Regions from separate parts of the Homo sapiens genome. Here region 2 is linked to region 1. Evidence: fine-mapped expression QTL. A gene starts in region 1. The other region holds a variant in brackets. All regions are shown on one strand. Distances are from middle to middle.

The links. PIP is the estimated chance that this variant, and not a neighbour inherited with it, causes the effect.
Region 2: its variant is the best candidate, but not a certain one, in a credible set for the expression of TOR1AIP1 in fibroblasts (GTEx, PIP 0.85).

Annotation. Positions count from the first base shown.
Region 1 is chr1:179,878,390-179,887,889 of GRCh38, reverse strand. TOR1AIP1 (torsin 1A interacting protein 1) reads right to left here and starts at 5,605. Exons shown (of 10, transcript NM_015602.4): 1 at 4,913-5,605; 2 at 3,121-3,198. The coding sequence starts at 5,387. It overlaps LOC139427322, which reads right to left and starts at 5,574. Exons shown (of 1, transcript NM_001436163.1): 1 at 5,497-5,574. The coding sequence starts at 5,574. The coding sequence ends at 5,497. RefSeq lists enhancers at 4,639-4,738, 5,042-5,336, 4,899-5,658, 5,163-5,700, 5,679-5,788 and 1 more.
Region 2 is chr1:179,913,438-179,922,937 of GRCh38, reverse strand. It overlaps TOR1AIP1 (torsin 1A interacting protein 1), which reads right to left. Exons shown (of 10, transcript NM_015602.4): 9 at 8,884-8,940; 10 at 2,862-5,486. The coding sequence ends at 4,699. Among named protein-coding and RNA genes, the nearest start is that of TOR1AIP1, 36 kb to the right of the region's middle. The variant G/A (reference allele first, on the strand shown) is at 4,285.

The sequences.
Region 1 (9,500 bases):
AGACTGGCCCAAAGTAGGTGCTCAATAATTATCTGGAGAATGAATGCTCTAACTACAGCAGCTAGAGAAGCAAATGTTCATGATAAAATAGTAAGCATTTAAGAACAACTATCTGATTGTTTAGCTAGAAACCACACTAGTAGAACAAAAATACCCATTTAACTTCTGGAAAAGTAAATAGAATTTGTCCTAATATATTTTTGGATTATAAAATTAGTGTCATAATTTCCAGAAAGAAATGAATCTGGCCATAGGAGAATAACTGTTATGTAGGTATATATAACCTGAATTGATTAAACAACCTAACGGCTATTTTAAGTGAAAACAACTCAATTATGGAATTTCAAACAATGAGAAGATTTCAAACTATATTCCTGTTCTGAATTAATCAACATTTTCAAGTCTTCCAATAACAAGATAACCAAATGATGTAGATATTTTTACTATGTTGTTTTATAAGGTGGTCCTTTGGTTTAGGTATTTTTTTTTTTTAGACGGACTCTGGCTCCATCACCCAGGCTGGAGTGCAGTGGCATGATCTCGGCTCACTGCAACCTCCGCCTCCCGCGTTCAAGCGATTCTCCTGCCTCAGCCTCCCGAGTAGCTGGGATTACAGGTGCCCACCACCACGCCTGGCTAGTTTTTGTATTTTTAGTAGAGATGGGGTTTTCACCATATTGGCCAGGCTGGTCTCGAACTCCTGACCTCGTGATCTGCCCACCTTGGCCTCCCAAAGTGCTGGGATTACAGGCGTGAGCCACCATGCCGGGCCTAGGTCTTTATTCGTAAGGGCATCTTTGCATAATTTTCTGTCAGACCACACCGGTAGCCTTATATACAATTATAGCACTATTTTGAATATCAAAGTTAAACTGAATGTCTATCATTCTATGAGGAAGAAGGGCTTATCTTTACCTTAAACTTGTACTTAAAGCAGTCCTCCATCAAAGAGTGACTCCATTTAAATAATTTCTCTTAGACTTTATAAGCATTTAATAATTCCCTAAACTCTCCTTTCATTAAGAGGCATGGGATGGGAATATGCCAAGTATTAGATGTAGTATAAAAGCACCTTTTAGAGGAAGAAAACCCTGAGTATCTCAAACCTCTCAAAGACAGACATACTCTTATTTCTAGTAATACTGAAGGCACAGTATGCTATTGATACAGTCCAGGTAATCTATGTGCAGATTCCATTTAATCTGTCATTTATATTGGTAAACATTTTCAATTTCTATTTATAGCATAAGCTTCTTGAGAAAAAGGATACACTTAAGCAAAATTGTATGAACTTCACATCTCTTGTAAAGGGCTATGAGAAAAAAAAAACCTCACTTGCATGTTTTACCGGGTACAAAGTGATTTCAAATGTACTATCTCATTTCTTCAGAGGCCCTGTGAGTTATGCAGGGCAAATAACACAGGTAAAGGCCTAAGGCTCAAGATGAGTGAGTAACTTCACTGAGGTCCAATGCTCTTGCCACAACCTCATGCAGCCATGGTGTACCTCATTAGCAGTTCTTAAATATGAGCCTAATATAAACTCCAAAAAGACTATTCAAGACATTCTATTACTTAATAGTTTTATAATGGTCCGGAGGCTAGCACTCAGTAGTCTTCATTATACCAATTTACTTAACTCCATAATTTTTATAAATTACTCTAGATTTAAAATTAGACATTTTTGCTTTCCCAGGTATACAATAAAATCTACTGCAAATAAATTCAAGATTATGGTTTTCCAAAATGGCCCAGAAAATCTGATTATATCATCATTATTCAAAGCATTTTTCTAAGATAGTTTATAATCTTAACACAGTAACATAGACTATTCAAGGAATATAGGACAGGCCAGGCGTGGTGGCTGATGCCTATAATCCCAGCACTTTGAGAGGCCAAGGCGGGTGGATCACCTGAGGTCAGGAGTTCGAGACCAGCTTGGCCAACATGGTGAAAACCTATGTCTACTAAAAATACAAAAATTAGCCAGGTGTGGTGTCAGGCGCCTGTAATCCCAGCTACTCAGGAGGCTATGGCAGGAGAATTGTTTGAACCTGGGAGGTGGAGGTTGCAGTGAGTGGAGATGGCACCACTGCACTCCAGCCTGAGCAACAGAGCGAGACTTTGTCTCAAAAAAGAAAAAAGAAAAAAAAATTAGCATGAAGGTGTTTTTATTTGAAACTCAACTTGAACCAGACATACTTATTCTAAGTTTAGAATACAATAGCTCACATTATAAAGCATAATCTTATTAGAAACAGGTAAATAAGTCAGGATCTGGGTACTAAAAACCAAGGATTATCAGTTTTAACAGCTATGATTGTTTATTATTGTGAGACTTTCCTAATATCAAAAAAAGCAAATTGAAAATTAAATGGAACTAAAACCCAAAGCATTAATAACTGGACTTGATCCCTTCTCCAGCTTTTTAAAATATTTTAATCAGCTTTTAAAACTTAAGTGAACTATTAAATGTAGCCTACTTCCATGTTACATTGATTCTGACAATTTTTTTAAACACTTTAACATCTTTGAAATTGGGATGCATCATATAATTATGGCATATTACTACAAATTACCAAAAAATTGGCAGCATTTTCCCTTGCTAGGTGGTACATAAAACAATGATGGTGTTTCTTATAGTCGATAGCATCTTAAGATTTGATAAACCACAGTATTAAACTGAAAAGACTGATCACACTGTGTCAAGATTTTACCATGAAGAAAAGTTAATCCATTTTAAACACAGGGCAGTATAACATATTCATTCATTTGACATTGAACAAATTTTACTGAGTAGCTAGTTATGACATGAGAGAATGATAGTGAGGCACTTGGGGGGAAAGTAAAAGGGCTCTGGAGAAGACAAACCTGGGTTTGAATTTTGGCTCAGTCACATATGTGATCTTACAGAATTGTCTTAGCTTCTCTGTGTTTCAGTTTTCTCTTCTATGAAATTGGTATAATACCTATCTTACAAGGTTATATGGGTGGCTGGTACTCTTGAGTACTCACGTGTCTGCCCTTGTCTTTTCTTTACACATACTTACATTGTTTAATTCAATGAACATTTAAAAAGTTGGTAGGTAAGGAGAAAAACAAAAAGTTAACTATTCTTACCTGGAGCCTCTTGTATGCTCCTGACAGTTTTCTTTGAGATCGTTTGGCTTAAATCAGTTTGGGAAGATGCTTCATCCTCTAAAAAACAGACATAACAAGAGTTAAAATTCAGAATATATGACCTGGGAGATCATGGCACAGATTATGCATTTTTGTAACAATACATAAGCAAAAATTCAAGAAATTCGTTTCTTTAGAAACAGGTGGTTAGGTTTACCAAAACTTAGGAAATATACCAGTCAGAACTCCTCTTGAGACAGAATACAATGAATTCAACAGAATATAATAATATTTGCCATTGTTGTTTTACAAAAATATATTACTTCAGAAAATCAAAAAGATGGGGTAGAGAGTCACAAATGATGTGGAAGAAAGCAGAAGAGTGAAAAATGTTTAGATCCTTAAAGATTTAATAAAATAGGGGTAAATTCTTTACTTGTTAAAAAAAAGTTAGCCTGTATAACTGCACTAGGCTCTGTGGAACTCAATACAATGTAACATATTTTTTGCCTACCATGTACAAAGCATTCTTCCAGGTACTGAAAAATACTGAATTAAACCAAGTACTTAAATTACTATCAAATATATTATAGGCTCCTTGTCTGCAAAAACTTTGTAATCTTAAAAGAGATAAAACTAACACATATATGGGCTAAACTGTCTTCAGTTGCTACACCCAAAAATAACTGACATAACTTTAACATAAAGTTTCCAAAATCAAGTCTTCAAATCTGTCAGTACCTTCACGAGTCAGCAGGTAAACTTGCAGCCTATCACCGTGCTCTAAGCTGAAAACCCACTCCTCCGCCTATCAATAGTCTACCACAAACTATGTCATCCCATTGTGACTCAGGTCCGCTGATTTTTACCTCACAGGTGCCTTACATGGGATTAACATGAAACTTCATCTGTGACTCAGTGTTAGGTCCTAAAATGGGGGGGGCAGGGTGGGAGAGGATAGATTAAGGAAACTGATTCACCTATGACTTACCTAACACTATACACTCACTTTGTCAGCATCCCTTTTGTCCATTTAGACGAAAACTCTAATTAATAGTCTTGTTTTTCAGGTTACTTTGTCAGTCTGATTTGCCAGACTACTTGAGGTTACAGTGACGGCCACCAAAGTGGCAGATTTTTGGCAGGGACCACCACACTGGAGAAACAGCAATCAGCTCAAGTTATCAAACACTGGGGAACATCAGTTCAGGAAAAATGAGTTACCCCATTTCGGTGAAAGTATTGGGTGAGGTCTCAAATCAATTCACTAAACTCAGCAATCCCTCGAAATGCCCACTCACAAAATTTCTCCTTCCTCTCTGCCCACCTGGGTGAGGAGGGAAAAAGACTGAAAGGTTAGATCCTCAGCTGGGGACTCTGGCCCGCGAGCGTTAAAGAAGGAAATGGAAGTGGTTTCTGTAGAAACATCCGCAGGGTAGAGGGAACCGAAATGAAACCGACCCTGCAGTAATTCGCTGTCCCCTCGTGAAGGCCTGCAGAAAAAGGCAGCTCTGACTCCCCTAAATTGATGCCCGATGTTGGGCAGAGCGCCCCAGCCCTGCCCGGGTCGCTCCACACGACCATCTTTCCACTCCTCCGGTCGGCGCTTCCTTCCCCGCTGCGGGTCAGGGTGGCCCTTGCACGGCGGCACAAGTCCAGAGGGGGCTGAGGAATACCCTTTAGCCAATCCCAGTACTTAGTACCCAGGCGGGCATGAGCTCCACCGAGGCGCGCGCCCGCCCCCGCGCGTTCCCTGGCTCGCGGCTGGGACTGTTACCTCCGCGGTCCTCACCTTCAGAGGAATGAGAGTCCCGCAGCCCTCTCCTGGTCATAACAGGAGACGGCTGTAGCGGAGGCTGCTCTGAGTGCTGCTGCTGAAGGCGGGTAGTCCTTCGCGTCTTCATTTCCTCGGTTTCCTGGGGTCGCGGCTGCCTCCGCTGCCTAGACCGAAGGTAGTACGCGCTTTCTCTCACTTCCTCTTTCGCAGAATCGGACCGGAACTCTTCTAGCCGGGTTCGTTTTCCCACCGGGGACCTTTCTTTGGCCACCAGGGGCTCGAAGTCGCCGTACACTTCTGGCGGCTCGTCCGAGAACCTCACTTCCCGCCGGCCCTGGCGCGACGGAGGAGTTCTGTACGCAGGCGCATCGCTGCTGCCGCCATTTTGAGGGGCGAGCCGGCCCCTTCCCTCTCGGATGGGGGCCCTGGGGGTGACGTACACACCCCATCCTTCCCGCACCGCCTCTGCCCGCCGCCCGTCGCCCGCCATAGTTGTTGACGTAGCTTTAGTCGATCGCGAAGATGGCTTTATGGACCCTAGGTTCTCCTGCCGGTGGTGGCGATGGCTTCTCGGGGGTGTTGGGCGGTGGCCGCTGTGGTCAGGGAGGCAGTTGCGAGTCGCTGGGGCCGCCGCCTGCGTCGTCGCTGCTGTGTAGCAAACCTGCCTCTGGGCCCATGGTGTGTCTTGAGGGCTGTGAGAGAGGCAGTGCCTGAGCTGGGTCAGCTGCTGTGGATCGCTCCCGCCTCCTGGCTGGAGGCACCAAAGAGGAGGAGAAGGGGGAGGAGGACGTCTCTGCCATCGCCCTTAAGTAAAGGAGGGGTGGGGGCGATAGAAGGATGGCAGGGCAACTTGCCTGTCCTAAGTCTAGCCGCTCGTGGCAAGTGTTGACTGCGTGTAGGAGACTCCCGTCCTATCTCCCAGTACCAAGTCTCGGGGAAAAGGAGTGCGACGAGGGTGGAGAAGACCCAAGTTTCGCTTCTCGGCCCCAGGCTGTTGCGCAGTTTCCCTGGAATCTTTTTGATCGACTGCTACGTTGACCATGTCCTTCCCAGTGTCCTTAGCAGGAGTGATGGCCAGAGAGAGAACTTTTGCACATGCCATGTTTTCGTGGCAAAAATTTTAGTTTCAAGTACCTTATGAGGGCGGTTACCTAGTTTTGAATTTTGTCACTTGTTGAGGGTGTACAAAATCCTATCTAGAGTCATACTCGTTGGATGTATTTTCTTTTCCGAAATGTACCCATAGGACACATAACCTTATTCCTGGTCTTTAATATTTCTCGGTTTTATACCAAGCAGCAGTGTTCGGAAGACCATGTTAGTGCTACATTGTGCACAGTGAGAAATGAACAAGTTTTTTAATTAAAGACAGCACTGTAATTTTAAGTTGTGATCCATTATTTTTACTTTTATTCTGGATGTGACGTGATACTCTACATTTGATTTAGAATGCTTTATGGACTTTATGGAATAAGAAAGCATGGTAAAATCTATTTGTTTCACCTCCTTATACAAATGTTTACAGATGTGGCTAATCTGCAAATACCTAACCAAATTTAGACACATTCAGAGAAGGTCGATTAAGTTCGTGTAAAGTCTGAATAATTATTGAAAGAAAGCTTAAATTGCCTTCAAATATACAACTGCTTGTAGGGCTTTGTATGATTGGAGTGAATAGATTTAAAAAATTGTAATTTGGATACCAGTTACAATGAGCGATTCTGAAAAGTTTGAAGGTGTTTGTTTATTCTTCCAAGTAATCACCTTAAAATGTTTTTGAGCAACTCATTTGTTGCTCAAACTTGGCACAAATTTCAACTACTTAAGTCGTAATGTGTACTATGTTTTTATTTTATTTTTATTTTTATTTTATTTTTTTTGAGACGGAGTCTTGCTCTGTCACCCAGGCTGGAGTCCAGTGGCGCGATCTCGGCTCACTGCAACCTCTGCCTCCCGGATTCACGCCATTCTCCTGCTTCAGCCTCCCCAGCAGCTGGGACTACAGGCGCATGCCGCCACGCCCGGCTAATTTTTTTGTATTTTTAGTAGAGACAGGGTTTCACCGTGTTAGCCAGGATGGTCTCGATCTCCTGACCTCGTGATCCGCCTCTCGGCCTCCCAAAGTGCTGGGATTACAGGCGTGAGCCACCCTGCCCGACTGTGTACTATGTTTTTACTAATATTGTCCATAAATTTGGCCACAGGCAGGAGGAATTACAGTTTTAGAGTGAGATAAGGTTTGGCCTGTTAGGAGCTTAGTTTACTGTAGCTTTATGTACAATATAGCTTTTAAAAACTGCAGTAACAAAAGAGAGACTTCTTTCTTTCTTTTCTGTCTCTCTTTCTTCTTTCTTCTTGTCTTTTAAGGAAAAATGAAAAGGATACTCTTCCTTGTCAGTCTGGATTAGATGGTATATTTCGGAAATTAGCTAGATTTACTCTTCCAACAAAATGCTCAAAAGTATTGATATGGTAATACGTGGCTTTTATTTATGTTTTAAGCAGGGCTTTCTCTTTAAAGTGGCTATTACATTACTCATTAGTAACACAATAGTATAAGTTCCTTAATAGATTTAATTATTAAATATAAATTTTATAGTAATATATTGAGTTCATATTATGAACATTAAAGTCTCCTTGAAACATTTTACCAAGACAGATGACTATGTAGAAACTGGGATACTAGCTTATAAAACTTGGATACAGGCTTGTAAAACTTAGGTTTGAGGGACAAATTAAAAAAGAGACAAGAGATTCTACATATTGAACAATCAGAGGAGAGGTTCTGCATATTATTGAATAATCAGAATATGCATATTTTGTAATTAAAACTGCTTGTAAAGGCTTAGGAATGGCCTTTCAACTAAATTAATGAGACACTTACTGTAAAATTAGAGGTATGGTAACTTTAATGCTAACACACACACACACACACACACACACACACACATATATATATGCATCGGATTTTCCCTCTCATCTAGGTTGTAAGCATAAGGAAACCTACCTCTACTGTGACTGCCTCCTTCACCTAGAAACCTTACAGATACGAAACTTTCATCACTAGCTCTGAGGCAAAGCTAAACTGTTATGAAACTAGATACTCTGCTGTAGCTATTATCCAGACTATAAGAGTGGCTGAAAAGAGGTGACATTACAGTGACAGTAGAGTCATAGCCAATATTATAAGGGATGCGCTGGGCCACTAAAAAAGGATGCCTCAGCTCTGGATATTAAAGTTACTTTGGGAATTTGAGAAATCTGGAGGAATTCAGTGACCCAAAAAAGAAGACCGGTAAGAAAAGAAATGATTAAAACAAAGAATACACTTAATAATTCATTTACTTATCAAACGTGTGCCAGCAATGAGGAAGACTATCTTTAGGGAATTTGTCATTTATTGGGAACGACAGAAACACGAAAAATTACAATTCAGATTAAATGGCATTAATTCACACACTTAACTATTAGGGCTAGGTCTGGAAATCCTGTGCTCTTGAGACTGGGTTCCTAAATCAGTTATTTTATTTCATTTTTAATTAATTTATTTATTTAGAGACGGAGTCTCGCTCTTTCGCCTAGGCTGGAGTGCAGTGGTGCAATCTCGGCTTACTGCAGCCTCCCCCAACTCCAGGTTCAAGTGATCCTCCTGCCTCAGCCTCCCGAGTAGCTGGGATTACAGGTGCCTGCCACCATGCCCAGCTAATTTTTGTATTTTTAGTAGACATGGATTTTGCCATGTTGGCAAGGCTGGTCTTGAACTCCTGACCTCAGGTGATCCATCCGCCTTGGCCTTCCAAAGTGCTGGGATTACAGGTGTGAGCCACCACGCCTGGCCAAAATAATTATTTTAAATGAAACATTTTAGAACAATAAATTTTTTGTACAGGAACTTTTTGCTTTAGGGTAAGCAGAAGTTCATTTATTTAAAGAGATAAATCTATCCGTTGTGACTTAGTAGTACAAATGAAGTAGGCAAACAATTTTAATAAGGAAAAGATGATTAAAATATTAAACAGGAGGAAGTTAATTAAAGACATAGTAGCTGGCTCCATTTATTCCCCAGTCTTACAAATGATAGAAAAATATTTTAATGACAATACAAATGAAAATTCCTGGAAATGTTATACTGAAATTAATTAAACACAATAAAGTGAATGGAATATAGTATTCTTTTTGTTGAATTAGGACTTGCAGTTAATTATTAAACACCATCCAAGAGTGTTACCAAATCCTGTCACTTCTGCCAAGAGAGGGTGATTGAGAAGTGAAGGCACCAAAAATCACATTAAATGAGGAATTATTAATTCAATAAATACTTGAGCTACTGTGTAGTAGGCAGTCCCTGTTCTCTGTGCTGGGGATACAGCAGTGAACAAAATAGACTAAAAGACAAAAAATGTTTCCTGCCTTCTTGGAGATTATATTCTATGGGAGGAGTCGGGCAAAAATCAAAATAAGTAAAATAGTGTGTTGGTCAGGACTGTTATGGGAAAAAAAAGAGGAAAGGGGAAGGGAGTTTTACATGAATAGATTTCTTCTTGAAATTTGGTTAGATTTGTCCTGAATTGCTGTAGGTCAAGAACAGGAATTTTAGACTTAC
Region 2 (9,500 bases), 35 kb before region 1:
TTCAGCACTTCTACAGTCAATCAAATCTGGTCAGTTCTAATTCTCGAATATTTTTCTTATCCATCTTGTTCGTACATCCATAGCCATCTTTTATCTGAATTATAATACCCTCTTAGGCAACAGAAAAAGATGGAAGAATACTTGCTAGCTATTTTTAGAAAATGCAAATGCCAAATATCACTGTGGAAAGACCTCACAGCTTCCCAGTCTTTTCCCTTGATATTCCACCTTTCCCTTGAGGACCTGTAATGATCACTGTCTCTATCAGAGAAGTGCATTTCCCTTCCACGGCGTAGATTGGTCCTCTTTGTTTTTCCTTATTCATAGCATTGCTAAACCCAGATGAGTTATATACAACTTTTAGATAGGGCTTAGGCGTAATGGGGGATGGGGGTGGGGAAAGCAAATAAAACACTAAGATGCAACTTACCTAGCTATAATTAGGTATGGCTTGCTCTTTTTATTCAATAAATATTTGAGCATTCTGTGATTGCCACGGTGCATATATTGATGACACATCACTGCTTGCAAGATGCATGTGGTAGCAGGGGTATGCTAATGCTGCCACAGGGTAATAAAGGATAAATCAGAGTGTGGAGCACCTCAGTCACTTTAAAATGCGCAGGAAAGTCTGTGTTCTCTCCTTTTATCTGGAAGATTCACCAGTCATTTGAGCCCTTTGAAGTGACTCATTCAACCCCCAAAATGGTTTGGCTGGACACTACCCAGTTTTGGATAAAAGGACAGGAGCTGGCTTCAGCTAGCAGTTTGCAGAGGTTTTCTTTCATCAGGGGTATCATTGGTTATCTTGTAATGCTTGCGATGAATTTTTCCAGCCTCTAATTCACCCAACCCAGGAACTCCTCACGCTGCTGGGTTTTGTAACAATAAAGGTCTTATTGTTTAAGCTACCAAAAAAAGAAAAAGAAAAAAGAAAGAAAGAAAGAAAGAAAGAAAAAAAACAGGAGGCACCTAAAATAGTATCTGGGGGAAGGGAATTATGAAAGATTTCACTGAAGTGCTGCCCTAAGAAAACGAAGACTTTAAGGACAAATAAAAATTAGCAGAACATGAGATTGGAGAAAGCGAGAGGGCAGGAAATGAAGTATTCCAAGAGTCTAAGAATGTGCAAAAGACAAGTGAATGATGTGTTTAGGAAATTGCAAGTAGTTCATTATGTCTGGGGTGTAGAGTACAAAGGGGTTCTTCTGTTTATGCTCAGGTGACAGGAACTAGTTTCTCTACCACCCACAAGGGTCCTTAAACACACAAGGAATTCTCAGAATCCAGGCCAGAAAGAGGGCATTCAAGGGAGGAATTTCCTCCTTTTCCAGTCAATGGCAGCCTTCTCAGCTTGGTTTTCCAGGCTCAGGAACCCCATCTTTGGTGGTTAATGCCAATAAAATCCTCTTCCTTAGGGAAAAACACTATCCTCTTATACCACAAAATTTTACTACATGATCTTGATAAGGACAAAATAGCAGAATAATGCATTATCTTTACGTATTTAATGTAACTGCTTGTTTACACTGCCAAAAGAAAGGCTACTTTCCATAAACTTGAGATCATAGGGAAACTGGATATTATACTTTTAGCTTAGGCGTTAACTAATGGTACAAAGTATGTAAACCCCTATCACTTCTAAATGGCAGTTCACTGAATGAAAATCAGTTTACTTCCAATTTTTGTTTTGAGGATTAGAGGTTTAGAAAACATCTTTAAATATTAAAAAGTCATTAAAACAAGGGAAGCAAATTAAGTTTCAAATTAAGTTACTGTGGTTTTCCTGGGCCACTGTTGTCAGCCAGTTACAATGTGCTCCATTTCTCTAGACCCTAGCTCCTATTCTGAAGCTGGTATCTTACTTAAATTTTCCTTTCTAGGCCAGGCTCCGCGGCTCATGCCTGTAATCCCAGCACTTTGGGAGGCCAAGGCAGGTGGATCACCTGAGGTCAGGAGTTCAAGACCAGCCTGGCCAACATGGTGAAACTCCGTCTCTACTAAAAATACAAAAAATTAGCCGGGCATGGTGGTGTGAACCTGTAATCCCAGCTACTCGGGAGGCTGAGGCAGAAGAATCACTTGAACATGGGAGGCGGAGGTTGCAGTGAGCCGAGATTGCGCCACTGCACTCCAGCCTGGGCAAGAGTGAGATTGTCTCAAAAATAAAAAAAATAAAAAATAAAAAAAATAAAAAATAAATTTTCCCTTCTAAAAGGATCACAGTAACATGAATAGCAAATAGAACATTTTAGGCAGCAATTATCTAAAACGTGGATGCTCTTGAGCATGCATTCTCAATGGGGGTGAAAATTGGTTCATTGGGGACAAAAAAAAATTCTATTTTGTATAAAGCAAAAAACATTTACAGTCCATAAACAGATACATAGTATATATCTGGTGTTGAAATATCATGGGGAAGGGGTGACTAAGAAAAAAATCTAAAAAAGTTCTTCAGGGAGGTGATAAAGAAAAGGTTAAGAAGCCAGGTGTAGTGACTTATGCCTGTAATCCCAGCTACTTAGGAGGCTTAGGCAGGAGGACTGCTTGAGGCCAAGAGTTCAAAAACAGCCTGGGCAATATAGCGAGATCCCATGTCTACTTAAAAAAAAAAAAAAGAAAAGCTGCTGTGGAGATTCTTTTGCTAAGTCAGGAATATCTAACTTAACTGTATTTTTAAAAACCCTAAGTGCCGAGATAAAATGGAAAGTTACGGCTATTCCACTTCTAACCAATGTACTTGCAAATGGCTCCAGTTCTTTGATTTTTGTTTCTCCTAGCCAGAGTTGCTACAATTGTTCAAGGAAAATACTTGGATTTCTTTTTTTAAAGATGATAAATCATTAAGTTTATAACACATAGAGAGTATAAACCAAGAAAGTAAATTTATTTAAATTACTAAAATAGCTTTTAAAGTCATTTACAGATCAGCTGCTATAATTATTTTTCCTGAAAGACATAGGTAACATATTACTTTTAAATTACTTGGGTCAATGAAACATTTAATAAAAACATTTGTTTCTCTATATAATACGTATGTATAAAATAAGCCTTTTCAAAAACTCTGGTTTTCATAATCCTCTATAAATCAGATGATCTGACTTCTAAGAGGAACAAATTACAGTAAGGGGTATACATTTATGAATACTGGTAGTACTAGAGGAAAGACGTTAAACCACTCTACTACCACTTGTGGAACTCTCAAAGGGTAAATGACAAAGCCAATGACTGACTCTAAAAACAATATTTACATTTAATGGTTTGTAGACAATAAAAAAACAAGGTGGATAGATCTAGAATTGTAACATTTTAAGAAAACCATAGCATTTGACAGATGAGAAAGCTCAATTATAGATGCAAAGTTATAACTAAACTACTATAGTAGTAAAGAAATACATTTCACACCCTTCATATAAATTCACTATCTTGGCTTGAGGCACTCCATAAAATGTATCACGTGCATAGTAAATCTTTATATTTGCTATGGCGTTGCACTAGAGGACTTGGACTGCAACAAGTGGATGCGCGGAAAATGAAATCTTCTTCAATAGCCCAGGACAGCTGGTTAACAAATGGTTTGTCAATTCCTGAAACTCATTTCTTAATTCAAAACAAAAGCTTCAGGGTGTGTCCAAAATAAACTGTTACGAATTGACCTACTTTTTTTTTTTTGAGACGGAGTTTCATTTTTGTTGCCCAGACTGGAGGGCAATAAGCATGGTCTCGGCTTACTGCAACCTCCGCCTCCCGGGTTCAAGCAATTCTCCTGCCTCAGCCTCCCAAGTAGCTGGGATTTCAGGCATGCACCACCACGCCCAGCTAATTTTTGTATTTTTAGTAGAGACGGGGTTTCACCATGTTGGCCAGGCTGGTCTTGAACTTCTGACCTCAGGTGATCCACCTGCCTTGGCCTGACCTACTCTTAAGACTCAAGTGAACAAATATATTAAATTTTGCAATATACATGAAGAATCCTTGGGACAGCCAAGAATTTTTCTTCAAGGAAGGAAAAAGGAGATGTAAAAAACAAATCCCAACGGAATCCACCAAGATTAACAGTTCATATACCTATGTTTGACTAAACTACATCTCAGTGGATTACTGTAACATTTCCTCCCTTCAGCTTCCCCATTAATTTTCCTTCCTTGCCTTGTTCTTTCCATTTTCCAAAAAACAAAAGAAAAAAATTCCAAACACACACCTAGATGACCTTTCATTACTTATGTTCCTATAGGCAGAAGCTAAGGAACTCACACCTAAATGGTATAAAAGGGAACATAATGG[G/A]AAAATCCCTGGTTACATTTAGGGAGCAATCTTACTAATAACTCAGGAAACTTAGTGAGAAATCTAAGTTAAAAAATCAGGAAGGTTCATAAGAAAGGACACAAATCCCTCTCACTGGTCATACCATAACTGTAATAACTCAGCCCAGAATCAAAACAGATTCTCTAAGGAACTGCATATAATCTGCACTCCTAAGATACCTTTAACAGAGCTCTCAATGGAAACTGAAATGATTCTCTCATATCACAGATAATTAGGTTGAATGAATGATTTATATGTTCCATGTTTATGTAAGCACTTAACTTCTTTAAAAAGAAACTAGTTCTTTCAAAAAGAGCTCTGAATTCTGTCTCTGGTTAGAAAGTGTGAACAATTCTCAGAACTTGGGACATGATTTTTCTTCTCTCTCACTTCTTATAAGCAGATGCCCCTTTTCAGGGCATTTTCAGGTTGCACAGGCAGAACTAAGTGAGAAATACGGCTCCAGAGGCCATTCAGTTTGTCTGGGTCCATATGATTGTAGGAGTTGGGTGTGTTAGAATTGGTGAACTTGACTTTAAGAAAATCTCTTACTTTTTCTTCAACTTCCTTTAGGCCTAGACTTGTTCCAAGTGTCTCTTCCTCCAATAAGACAGTCAGGACTAAGGCTACATCTTTGAAGGCCGCGTTTTCATGGTCACAATATTTGTAGAAGATCAAAGTAGAGCCTGCGGGAAATGACTCAAAGCGGTGTACCACAGCTGCATTCTGGCCATTCTTAAATCCATTGCTCAGTTCTTGGTCTACCTCTAGTTTGACAGTATCACTGTCTTGAGTAGCTTTATCTGTCCCATCAATCCGGATGGCACGGACACTACGAAAAGAAGAATAGGCATCAGCAATTTGTTCACTCAGACACCTAAGTGCTTCTTCAGCATCTCGGGCAGCAGTGAGCAGTAAGATAGCAGGCTGAGACCGAGGATGGGAGCTATTAAGATGTTTTTCCAGGAATGTTTGGCTCCTTTTCCACAGCTTCTCATCTTGACCTTGGTACTTATTCTTAAGTTGATTCATCTGGTTCTGGAACTCTTGAACAGCAGTGGTTTCTACCTCAGGAGTACTAAAGAACCAAAAACTCCCAGAGGCAAGAGCAGCTATCAGAGGAAGTAGCCACCACCGGTTCCTCTTGACAAAAGATGCATTTTGGGGTTGTCCAGTCACTTCTACTCAGACAAAAAAGAAATGACAGATATAAATACCACTTTCTTAGATTCAGGGGCAAGTGACTTTTAAAATCAATATCAGTCTTTATAAACATTAGGTAAAAGAGGAAGGACTTTAAAGAAGAAAGCTGATAATTTTCTTAATAAAATAATTTATCACATTCTCAAGAAAATCTTACATGCATAGGCTTTGAATTATGTGTACAAATATGCATATGTCTCTTCAATATAAAAATAAGTCTTTGAGGAAAAAAGTTTTTAAACATATGAAATGGCATAAACAAGTCAGAAAAATAATAGTTTATAAAGCGAAGTTATTATTTTCACTGCTAATAGTTGGGAGAATAGACTATTAAAATACAATTTATAAAATATTTTTTTAATTTAGTAACTCAGCATTCACATGGCTAATTATTCAAGGTGAAATATTTCTGAAGTACATAAAGGGATAAAGAAAAGGATGCAGGCTGGAAGTGGTGGCTCATGCCTGTAGTCCCAGCACTTTGGGAGGCCGAGGAGGGAGGATCACGAGGTCAGGAGATCGAGACTGTGAAACCCCGTCTCTACTGAAAATACAAAAAACTAGCTGGGTGTGGTGGCACACACCTGTAGTCCAGCTACTTGGGAGGCTGAGGCAGGAGAATCACTTGAACACGGGAGGCGGAGGTTGCAGTGAGCCGAGATCACGCCACTGCACTCCAGCCTGGGTGACAGAGAGAGATTCCATCTCAAAAAAAAAAAAAAAAAAAAAGAAAAGGATGCAATATAAATGAACATCTTCTACGTGTTATAATAGCTAGCTGTCCCTTTAGATTAATTTCACTGATGCCTTTTGTGGTATGCAAGTTAACACTGGTAAAATTTAGTTTGTGACTCATCCCTAGTTACTATTGGCAATAATAATAGGATTAATTTATATTTATCTAGTGCTTTTCGGTTTATAAAGTACTTTCTCATATTCTACTTCATTTATTCAGTTGATAGTAACAATAATACTTTTACATCTTTTACTTATTGACTGTTTCAGGCTATTAATTTTAGTAGGGACCTTTTAGAGCAGCAATTCTCAAGGCGTGGTCTGTGGGGTACCTCAAGACCCTATTTTGTGGGGAGGGGGGTCCATGAAGTTAAAGCTATTCTTCTAACACTAAGATGTTATTTGACTTTCACCTTGTGTTGACATTTGCACTGATGACGCAAAAGCTATGGTGAGAAAAACTTCTGATGCCTTAGCATGAGTTACAGGGCAGTGGCACCAAACTGTACGAGTGTAGTCATTGTTATTTTTCACTGCCATGCATTCAAGATTTAACAAAGGGACATTCTTTTACTTAAGAATGTCCTTTATGAAGCAGTTAATTATTTATCTTATTAAATCTGAATCCTTGAGTACATATGTCAATATTCTTTCTGAACAAATGGAAGGTATGCACAAAGCACTTCTGCTGCATCATACAGTACCATGGTTGTCTCAAGGAAAAGAATTTTGTGCAAATGAATTACAAGGCGAATTAGCACATTTTTCATGGAATACTATTTTTTACTTGAAAGAACAAGTAACAAACTACAGTCAGACTTGTGTATTTGGCAGATATTTGCTTTCAAGTGAAAATTAGGATTTTAGAATCCTAAATCTGCCACCATGAGCTTGACAACTCCCAATATTGTACTTTAACACTTTCTTTTTTTTTTCTGAGATGGAGTCTCGCTCTGTGGCCCAGGATGACATGAAGTGGTGCGATCTTGGCTCACTGCAACCTCTGCCTCCCAGGTTCAAGTGATTCTCCTGCCTCAGCCTCCTAAGTAGCTGGGATTACAGGTGCGTGCCACCATTCCCAGCTAATGTTTTTGTATTTCTAGTAGAGACAGGGTTTTGCCATGTTGGCCAGGCTGGTCTTGAACTCCTGACCTCAGGTGATCCATCCGCCTGGGCCTCCCAAAATGTTGGGATTACAGGCATGGGCCACGAACCCCACCCTTTAACACTTTTTTAAAGTCTTGAGATTGGCAGTGATGTTAACAAATGTGATATTTTTTATTACATTCCTAATGTGTCAATGTTTGGAAAATCTGCATTCCTCAGTGAACCAATGTTTTCCAAATGACCAGTGCATGATACTCCATTCAAAGTATAAGAAAGACCAATGACTTTTAATGTAATAGAGTACTAAAAGCTCAGTAAGATGGTTTTAGATATCCTATTTCAAGTAACATTTAAGAAACTACCACTTGTTGAGTTTTGGAGAGTTCAAAAAAGAATAGCCACAATTATCTGAAGAGGCTATTAAAATTTTTCATATCTGTATAAAAGCTGGATTTTTTGTAGATACTTCAACAAAAATAATATATTGTAACAGACTGCATACAGAAGCATATATGATAATCCAAATCCATTTTTTAAAGCTAGGCATTAAAGAGATTAGAAAAAATGCAAAGCAATCTGATCTGTTACTCTTCTTGCTAAATTATTTTAAAATAAATTAATACATATTTTAAAAAATGTTTCAACTTTAATTTCCTGGTACATATGGATAGACATAACCCATATTTTCAACAAAAAGCTCTTTGAGGTTCTTAATAACTTTACTAGTGTAAAGCGGTACCAAGAACAAAAAATTTCAGAATCATCATTAATCTATTTTCTTTTTTTTTTTTTTTTGAGACAGAGTCTCGCTCTGTTGCCAGGCTGGAGTGCAGTGGCACAATCTCGGCTCACTGCAACCTCCGCTTCCTGGGTTCAAGTGATTCTCCTGCCTCAGCCTCCTGAGTAGGTGGGACAACAGGCGTGTGCCACCACGCCCAGCTAATTTTTGTATTTTTAGTAGAGATGGGGTTTCACCATGTTGGCCAGGATGGTTTCGATCTCTTGATCTCATGATCCGCCTGCCTTGGCCTCCCAAAGTGCTGAGATTACAGGCATGAGCCACCACGCTCAGCCCATTAAGTTATTTTCTTAGTACTCTTTCAGGACAATAAGACTTGGAGAACTAAAGAAACTTGCCACAAGGCTGTAAAGGAGGTAAGTGGTCCAATCTAGTTCAAATACAGGTTTGCAGACTCCGAAAGCCATTGTAATCCCATAAAGTCATGCTCTGGCTAACTTTCTTTCAATTCAGCATGGTTTTCTCAGTTAACAGTATTAGTAGCTTTACTTATTTTAGCTATTATTTTTGGTCTTATAGACAGTTAAGTGAAGAGCAATACCAGATGTTGTCTCATAAAGTTTGTCTATAAAGAATTTCACTGCTAGTAGAATATATACTTTTTCCTCTCAAGTGCTTAAAATGTGATTCTTCAAATAGCATCGAGTCATACTGCTGTCAAAAAACATTTTTAAACAATTATGGAATACCAATTTTACAGAAATATTTAATAAAAACTGAATACATAAACTTACGTCGGCTGGAGGTTGATGGTGACTGGTTTCCAAGCTCTGATTTCAGAATGCTGTCATCTAATGGTGAGAGTAATAAAATAAGACTATCAACTTATGCTTCATAATTTGAGTATTTATTTCTAGTAGACAAAGAAGATACAAATTCCACCAGGAAAAAAAGAAGACAGAGATCAGCCAGAAGCAGAAGAAAAAGTAGAATATCTGAGTGCCGATTAGACTGAGAGCTCCTTGAAACACATGACCTATTTCTTTCATAGCTTTTCACAGCATATGGTGGGGTCTAGTACAAAGCACACAATAATTAGTTTTGAGAGAAAGTTTGGAAGTATTTGACCCATTAAGTATCTAATGGGATTGGTGAAACTTCCGGGATAAAAAGGACAAAGAAACTAAGCACACCATAATAAAATGAAACATATTATACCATCTGAAAAACTGCCATATATTGAACTCTTGCCTGGTGAAGATGCTGTAAAGAGGGGGAAAATAAGGACAAAATGTGGATTACAGACTACTGAGCTGTCTGGATAAGGTGTTTTAATATAAAAATCTTAATCCTCACTATTTTCTACCTCAAACTGATTCAGTATTTCCTCTGGGGATTCTGACCATTTCAA